2 linked regions of the Homo sapiens genome follow. The protein of the gene in region 2 purifies or fractionates together with the protein of the main gene of each other region. This does not show direct contact. Each region holds a gene or a part of one and is shown on either strand. Other genes may lie near its edges. The genes, in order: B9D1 and POSTN.

What was found.
Region 1: the proteins of POSTN (region 2) and B9D1 purify together in Homo sapiens (affinity purification with mass spectrometry, with the first as the bait; one large-scale study listed by BioGRID). This does not show direct contact.

Annotation. Positions count from the first base shown.
Region 1 is NC_000017.11:19,345,457-19,349,279, forward strand, and holds part of B9D1 (B9 domain-containing protein 1), read right to left. Parts: intron 2,425-3,823; coding exon 2,328-2,424; intron 1,876-2,327; coding exon 1,813-1,875; intron 1,741-1,812; coding exon of another isoform or gene 1,683-1,740; exon of another isoform or gene 1,494-1,682; intron 1-1,493. UniProt on the Homo sapiens protein: Component of the tectonic-like complex, a complex localized at the transition zone of primary cilia and acting as a barrier that prevents diffusion of transmembrane proteins between the cilia and plasma membranes.
Region 2 is NC_000013.11:37,574,469-37,578,291, reverse strand, and holds part of POSTN (periostin isoform 1 precursor), read left to right. Parts: intron 1-493; coding exon 494-539; intron 540-3,639; coding exon 3,640-3,720; intron 3,721-3,823. UniProt on the Homo sapiens protein: Induces cell attachment and spreading and plays a role in cell adhesion. Enhances incorporation of BMP1 in the fibronectin matrix of connective tissues, and subsequent proteolytic activation of lysyl oxidase LOX.

The sequences.
Region 1 (3,823 bases), on a different chromosome or scaffold from region 2:
TTGAGAAACAGGGTCACGTGCACTTTGCACAGATATGATTAGGCTAAGGATCTTGAGGCGACTATCCAGGTGGACCCTAAAGGCCAGGACTCGAGTGATGAGGCCACAAGCCAAGGAAGGCTGGGGCCACCAGAAACTGAAAGGGCAATAAACAGAGTCTCCCCTAGAGCCTTGGGAGGGAGCACAGCCCTGTGGTGCCTTTTCTGGGCCCAGTGACCTGGATTTTGAACTCTGGCCTTCAGCATACATTTCTGCTGTTTTCAGCTATCACATTTGTGTGTTTTGTTGCAGCAGCCACCGTGGGAAACGAATACAGTGGCCAAGAGTGTTTGGGGCAGGCCCTAGGCCAGCGCTGGAGGATGTGGGGAGAGGCTGGGAGAGGGGTGGGGATGACCGAGGTGTCAGCCTGAGCAAGGAGCCTCCATATCTGGGAAGATTCTGCCAATCAAACTGCCTTCACTAATCAGAACTTTCTCCAGTTTTTGTAATCCAAGCACATACTGCCTTGCCCAGTTGCGAGCCCCTCCACAGGGGCTGTGAAACCCTTTCCTCAGCGAGCTGTCCCCTGGAGGCCCAAAGTCCTCCTTGGAGCTGTGGGCGGTGGAACAGGGTGAATAACCCAGCCTGGATGGCTGTGTGGGTCCCCAGTCTCTTAGGCTTTCCCAACCCACTGATGGGCACTGCCTCGCTGCCTCCCTGACAGCCTGTGGCATGGGGATTGTCACCTCCAGGTGATACTGGCCCAGGTCATCTGGGAAAGAAGTCCTTTGCTACAGGGTGGCCTCCCAGAAGGACTCCTAGGGGCAGTAGGCACACAAATTCTCAGGCTGAGGCCAGCGGAGACCCTGCCCTTCCTCCCCTCCACGGCTCTCAGAGCTCAGTGAAGCATTCTCGGCCCTGGGCGCGATGCTGTCCCTCCACCCAGCAGGGCTCTGGCCTGGTCTCACGCCCAGTACTGGCCAGGCTCGCAGGGGCTGCTTGCCGGCTGCTGCCCTGGAACCCAGGGAGTCCTCCATGTTCCACTTGTGCCTCACTAATCTGCCGGTGGGCGGCAGAGGCTTGCTGCCCAACTGCGCTAATGGTCCTCGAGTCAGAAGGCCAGGGCCCAGCTGGCCCTCTAAGCTCCCACTTGGATGTGAGCAGGGGTAAGAGGCCTTCATGCTGGGGCTGCATCCAGGCATCCCCTGGGCCCTCCCTGCAGGCCCTTGTGTCCTGGCCCCTGCCTGCCTCCCTGATGTCTCCCTCATTCTGCCTGGCTTACCACTTACTGGCCACACTGCCGTCCTGGCCACACCACCGTCCTGGCTTCTCTAGCATGCTAAGCTCACGCTCTCCTCAGCCTGGCAGGCACTGTTCCCTGTGCCTGATGTTCTTCCCCGGCTCTTCCCTCCACACTAAGCCTCTGCGCAAATGTCAGCTCCGGCCAGAGACTCCCACATGTAAAGGCATTTATCATGATTACTGTTCCAAGGTGTCTGACTCATACTGCTATATCCTCTTGTTTCCCACCTTTTAATGTCACATTATGTCATGAGCATTTTTCCCATCTGACAAGAGTTTTTCCTCTGCTCCCTCAGACACAAAGATTTTTCACAGGGCACAGGGTAAAATCGCCCGGCCTTCTGCTGCTGGAACAGGGCTGAAGGGAGCCCCGTGACTCAGCACTCCCAGGGGACCTGTTTCTATTTGTCCTCAGTGGGTGGAGCAGCTTGCAGATCTGAGGAGGCGACCAGGCACAAACTGAGGGGTAGAATGGGACATCCATTCATCCAGTAGATCAGGAGGGGCTGGGGTTATGGGTACAAAACTCACCTTGTAAACTTCTGCAGTTTAGACGTAGATTCTGGGACAAACATGGGGATGGTCCTTTTGTGCCTGAAACAAATGTTTTTGCAGACAGAGATGCTGAGTAAGAGACCTTTCTGAGCCTCCAGGGAGAAGAAACCCTCAGATCAGGCCAGTGCAGCTGCAGCGTGGGCCAAGTCAGGGCCAATGTCAACGAATCCAACCTGTGCTAACTGAGCACCCCCTGTGTCTGGGCAAGGTGCTGAGCGCCAGGAGACAGCCTCATGGAGGTCAGAGTCCCTCAGGGTCTTTTCTTTTCTGGGTCCCACTACCTCCCCAACCCACCTGGTGTGTGGCTGGCACCACCCATCTGAAAGGTTCTCCTCCCAAATACAGGCTACAACCCCCCTGGCCACCAGGCTGAGCTGCCCAGGCCCCTGGAGACCCCAGAGCATTCCCAGCCTGAACCTAAGACAGAAAACGAGGTGAAGTCTGTCCTAGGACAAGTCCTGCCCAGGGCCCAGGTCAGAATGAGGACCTACCGGCCAGGTGAGAAGGGCACGTGCACGGCCCCATAGCCTCGAACCACATCGTTCCCGAACACATCTGGTCCATACACGCTGAGCACGATCTGTGGCCCTTGGGAAGGACAAGGCAGGGGGTGGGCACATGAGGACACACAGGGGAGGTGCAGGGCAGAGAACAGGGCGTGTCCAGCTGAGGGTGCTCAAAGGATGGAGCTCAAAACTCTGGGGTGGCAGGCTTGAGAGGGGACAGGAGCAGGCATGGGAACCCAGACTGTGCCAAAGACTTCTGCCCACCCTGGTACTTCCTGTGTCTCCACTGAGGCCTGGGCACACATTCCACACCCCTTCTCACCGCTATGGAGTCAGTGCCCACTCAGTCACTCCATGTACAAGGAGGCACTTCCAGAGGCCTTATCTGGGCCCAGGGCCCCAGCTATGATCAGGGCCGACTAAGGACCTCTGCTCTCTGGGTGCTCCCTTCCTGATGGAGGCGGGCTCATGGGACTGAGGTGGCAGGGGCTCATTTTGGGGGTGTCTAGAAGTCAGAGAGAAAAGAAAAACCTTCTGGGCATTTTCCTTTAAAATATTATAGGTACTATAATAGGTGTGGCTGTTTTTACACCCGCTTCGTGTTGCCATTGAGGCGCATGAGGCACTTTCACCTCGCCAGTTTCAGGTGAGGCCCAGGGAGGGACTAGGAGCCGGCCTGACAGGCTCTGATCCTGCAGCCACGACTGAGGCAAGTTAGCCAACCTCTCTGCCCCTGTTTCATCATCTCTAAAACACATGAAATAGTACCTAATGCATAGTGAGTGCTCAGTAAATGTTAGGGAGAGGTTTGTGCCCTTCCCATTACTACCTTCCACCAAAGGTAACCATTATTCTGAATTTTAGGAAACTACCTCTTTACTTTTCTTTAAGACTTCACTGCCAAAGAATGCATCCCAAACCTGGTACTTTACCTTTACCAATGTTTTTGAAAGTTTATACAAAAGGAATTATACAGTACATTTATTTTTGTGCCCAGACTCTAATCCAAAATTATGTCCATTAGATTTTCTCAAATGGTTTCCTGTAAAGGGGCGTGTTCATGTTCAATACCATATAACATTCTGCGTGGGAATCTGTCACAATGACTGTTCATTCTAGTGCTGATGGACACATGGGCTGCCCTTCCTCTGGGGGCCACGCACCCAGTGCTGAGCACCATGGCGCAGGCTCTCGGTACTCGCGTGCACACATCTCTGGTGGGCACACACCCAAGAATGACACTGCACAGGGCCCATGTATGTTCCCTCCCAAAAGGTAACACCAAGCTGCCAGCATGGTCCTATCAGCCAGCACTCCCCCAGCAGTGGTATCTGATTCCTGCTCCTCTGTACCTCACGAAAACATGGCATTACCAATCTTTTAAATTTGAGCCGTCCTAGTGAGAGAATAGTGGTAGCTCACTGTAGCTTTAACTTATATTTTCCTTCATTTTAGATTTTTCTTACTGAAATAAGGTTGAG
Region 2 (3,823 bases):
TTATGAAAAATATGTATTTAAATTGGACATGTCTTTATTCAAAAAGTTTACAGTCCAATTTAGAAAAATAAAATGGTACATAAATGACTAAAATCGTTGTATCATTCAATACTTTCACTGCAGAATATAAAGGAAAGAACATTCACTTATAAAAAATTGTCACTCATCACAGATTAAAGGGAACGGAATATTTTTCTTCTTTTTCAATGTAGGGTAAAAGTAGCAGGAAACATAAAATTGTGTTTCATAAATATATTTAACTTTGGATTAATTATTATATAATTTTTAAATCTCTGAGTAATGAATCCAATGATTTTTATGCCCTCTGACCTGATAGCATTGAATTGGAAGATGATTTATATGAGGACTTCACTTCTATTAAGTGTAATAATAGCTTCACTATTTTTACTTTAATAAGAATTAAAGTGGTGCCATGGTTTTGTTAACACAACTATCACCTTTCATGTTACTAAATATAAACATTTATTTTCAGTTTGTTCGTGGTAGCACCTTCAAAGAAATCCCCGTGACTGTCTATAGTAAGTATATAATAAATATTGGCCACCTGGGTGGCAAGGTATGAAAAAAGAAAACAATACATTTCTTTGTATTTACAGAGATTATTGATAATCTGGTATTTAGAATTCCAAACTATGGCCAATCTCATTTCACTTGAAAAAAGGATTGAGGTCTCAGATAACCTTCAACTCCAATGAACTTCTTCCCCACTCATTGGAAAAACAGAAATGATATGACATGAGAAAGACAGCAAAATATAATATTAGCGTGGCAAAGAGCCAGGAAAATAAAAAGACATATAAAGGGAAGAGATGGCGAAAAGACCCTCTAGAAATATCTAAAAATTCAGATGTGTGGACACAGAAATGACCTTAGCCAAGACTTGTTGTTCACGCCACCCTCAAGCCCTGAGCTATCTAAGGGCAGGCTGAGAAGCACGTGTTGAAGAATACCAATGTTTATAAGGTGGCAGTTCAAAAACTCTCCCATCCAAAATTGGACAAAGGAACAAAAAAATCTGCCATGTGACAAATTTAAAGTTTCCAAATTCCAGGGTTCTTTGATCTCTGACACAACCAGATTATCAAAATTAAACCTCTACTACTTAACAATGATAAAGGGTATTTCATTCTCATAAGTGTAGCTAGTAGTATATCTTTTCCATCATGGCTTTTTCTCTGTTTATCTTTTCTCTCTTTCTTTATTTCACTGTAGCTTTCAAGCAGAAATTCTTTTCATTTTGTTTTGGCTCTGTAATTAAACACTCAAAGTGTATCAGTAGCTAAAACATTACTTCAATACCCACATTTATTCTGGCTAGAAAATCATTCCATTTTATACCATGAGCATCCAGTTATTTAATTAAGAAAATTTCCCTTAAGATTTATACTAGATATGGAAAAGGAGTAAAGCCAATGTAAGGAGCAAAACAAAATGTCTGCTGCTGTTGTTGATTTCAATTATGCAATAATAACATGCAATTCCAGGATCAGGCCAGCTCAGCACTGTATTAAAGATTTAATTGGAATAGTTATGATTCACCATGGGAATACAATCTTGTAAAAAATATGTTTTCTGAAAATTAAGCAATCCTTATGGGCTCTATTCATCAGACATGTTATGTCATCTTTCTTCATCAAAGGTATAAATATATACATATGCATATATATATATACACATTCCCACTACATTTCTTTAGCTTCCCTTCTTTATCCATCTTAGTTTCACTACTTTCTATATATGTGAATGCAATATCTTGATTACAATGAGCAAAAATATAATTATTTTCTCCTACTAAATTACATCCTCACTCACAGAGCATAAGCTACATTTTATTAAGACACACATGTTCAATGGTCCTTCCCTACCTACCCAGAGGCCTTGAAACAGCTCTAACATTTACATTCCAATGTAAGATGTTTCTTTTACTCCTCCTTAGACGGTATGCTGTTATTAAGAAGTATTTTAAAGTAGAAGTAAAGATAAATTAAACCAAATTTTCTATTTTTATATTTCGTTGTTGACTTGTTTCTAAAATTCCTATAATTTTTTGCTGCATATTATCCTCATCCCCAAAATAACATCCATTTTAAAGTGTATAGTTGAGGGGAAGGATGCTGTTTTTGGTATAAGTTGTCAAATATGGAACATTTGACCTGGAGAGGGCTAAAATCAATATTTAATCCTCAGAGCTTCACCTGTCAAAACTATTTAAGTCTGCAGAAAATCAAGATTGAAATGAAAACTACCAACCAGCTGAACATCCAAAACGTCAAATTCCTTAACATGATGTAAAAAATGTAAGCTAAAAGGAATTAGTCCATTTTGATAGCAGCAATAGAGAGCCCTGTGTATTCGTATTCGACTTTCATGGAAAGGTTCTTCTGTGGCAAGACCACCTGTGGAACTAGTACCTAAACACACAGATTTGTTTTATTTTAGAGCTTCACAATTTGAGATCTCAAAATACAAAACCTAATAAGGCTGAAACACAGGGTCTATGAAGGCTAAGAACCCACATTAATTCAAAAAGTTGACACAGCTAAACATCTTACAAGCATGAGGTGAGAACTGCAGAAACCAAAGCTGTGCTAACATCTCACCTCTACTGCTTTGATGTGATCTAGATGCACAGTTAGCTTCAGTGTGGCCCGTTATCTAATAGAACCATCTTTCAAGGCTTTTCATTAGAAATGACAAAAAGCCAGTTGCTCTGGCTGTGTGGCTTCAGAGGCACATTTCCAGTTAATCAGTACAACCAAAGTCAACCAAATAGTTGACTGGTATTTAATTTATTTTAATTTACTTTTATTATAGATCTAGGGGGGTACACACGTAGGTTTGATAGATGGATATATTGAGTAATGCTGGGGTTTAGGCTTCTAGTGAACCCATCACCCAAACAGCAAACATAGTACCTAGTTCAAAGACTATTATCTTACTTAGGTAGACGACACACGTTTAAAATATATACCTTTAAATTAAAAAAAAAAAAGGATAGTGATAACAAAGCTGAAAATTAAAGACATTTTAGCCTATAACTTAAATACTGATCATATCATGTTTGTTGAATAGAGCTCATGTCTGGCTGGCTGAAATTTATTCTTACTTTTAAGTATTCTGAACTATGTTTCATTTTTTCCTTTCTATGTCACTGTTATCAGATGCATGAAAAACATTTTAAAAGCCTTTTTCTTTCATTTTTTCTTTTAATTGAGAAAGAATCCAGCAATGCAATTTAAGATATTATGAATTGCATGACATTAATCATATTTGTCTTCTGTTGCAATGCAGCCAGTATTTTCAAGAAGTACAAAAGAAGGTAAAGCGCTTTAGCGGTACAATTAAAAATTACAGATTTCTAGATATAATTCCTCACTTTGTGAGTATATATTTCACTAGATCAAATTCAAGTCACTAGACTTCAGAGTTCAACACCTGGACATGAGAAGATATTATATTATGTACCATAAATATTTCCTGTATCTGACTGCCTGAACATATTACCACATCCTGTGCCTTAGTATCCTACAGAGACAAAAAAGAAAAGGAAAAAAAAAAAAAACCTTTGTTCAGGTTTTTATGTAAATATTTTTCATGTTCCACTTTCTATACTTTCAGCAACTAAAATTATAACCAAAGTTGTGGAACCAAAAATTAAAGTGATTGAAGGCAGTCTTCAGCCTATTATCAAAACTGAAGGTAAAAATCAATGTTATACATGGTTCCTTTTATAGTAAAAACATCTGTAAAAATACTGATCTCTATGAATGTATCTACATTCTTTTAAAAACTAACATGTTAA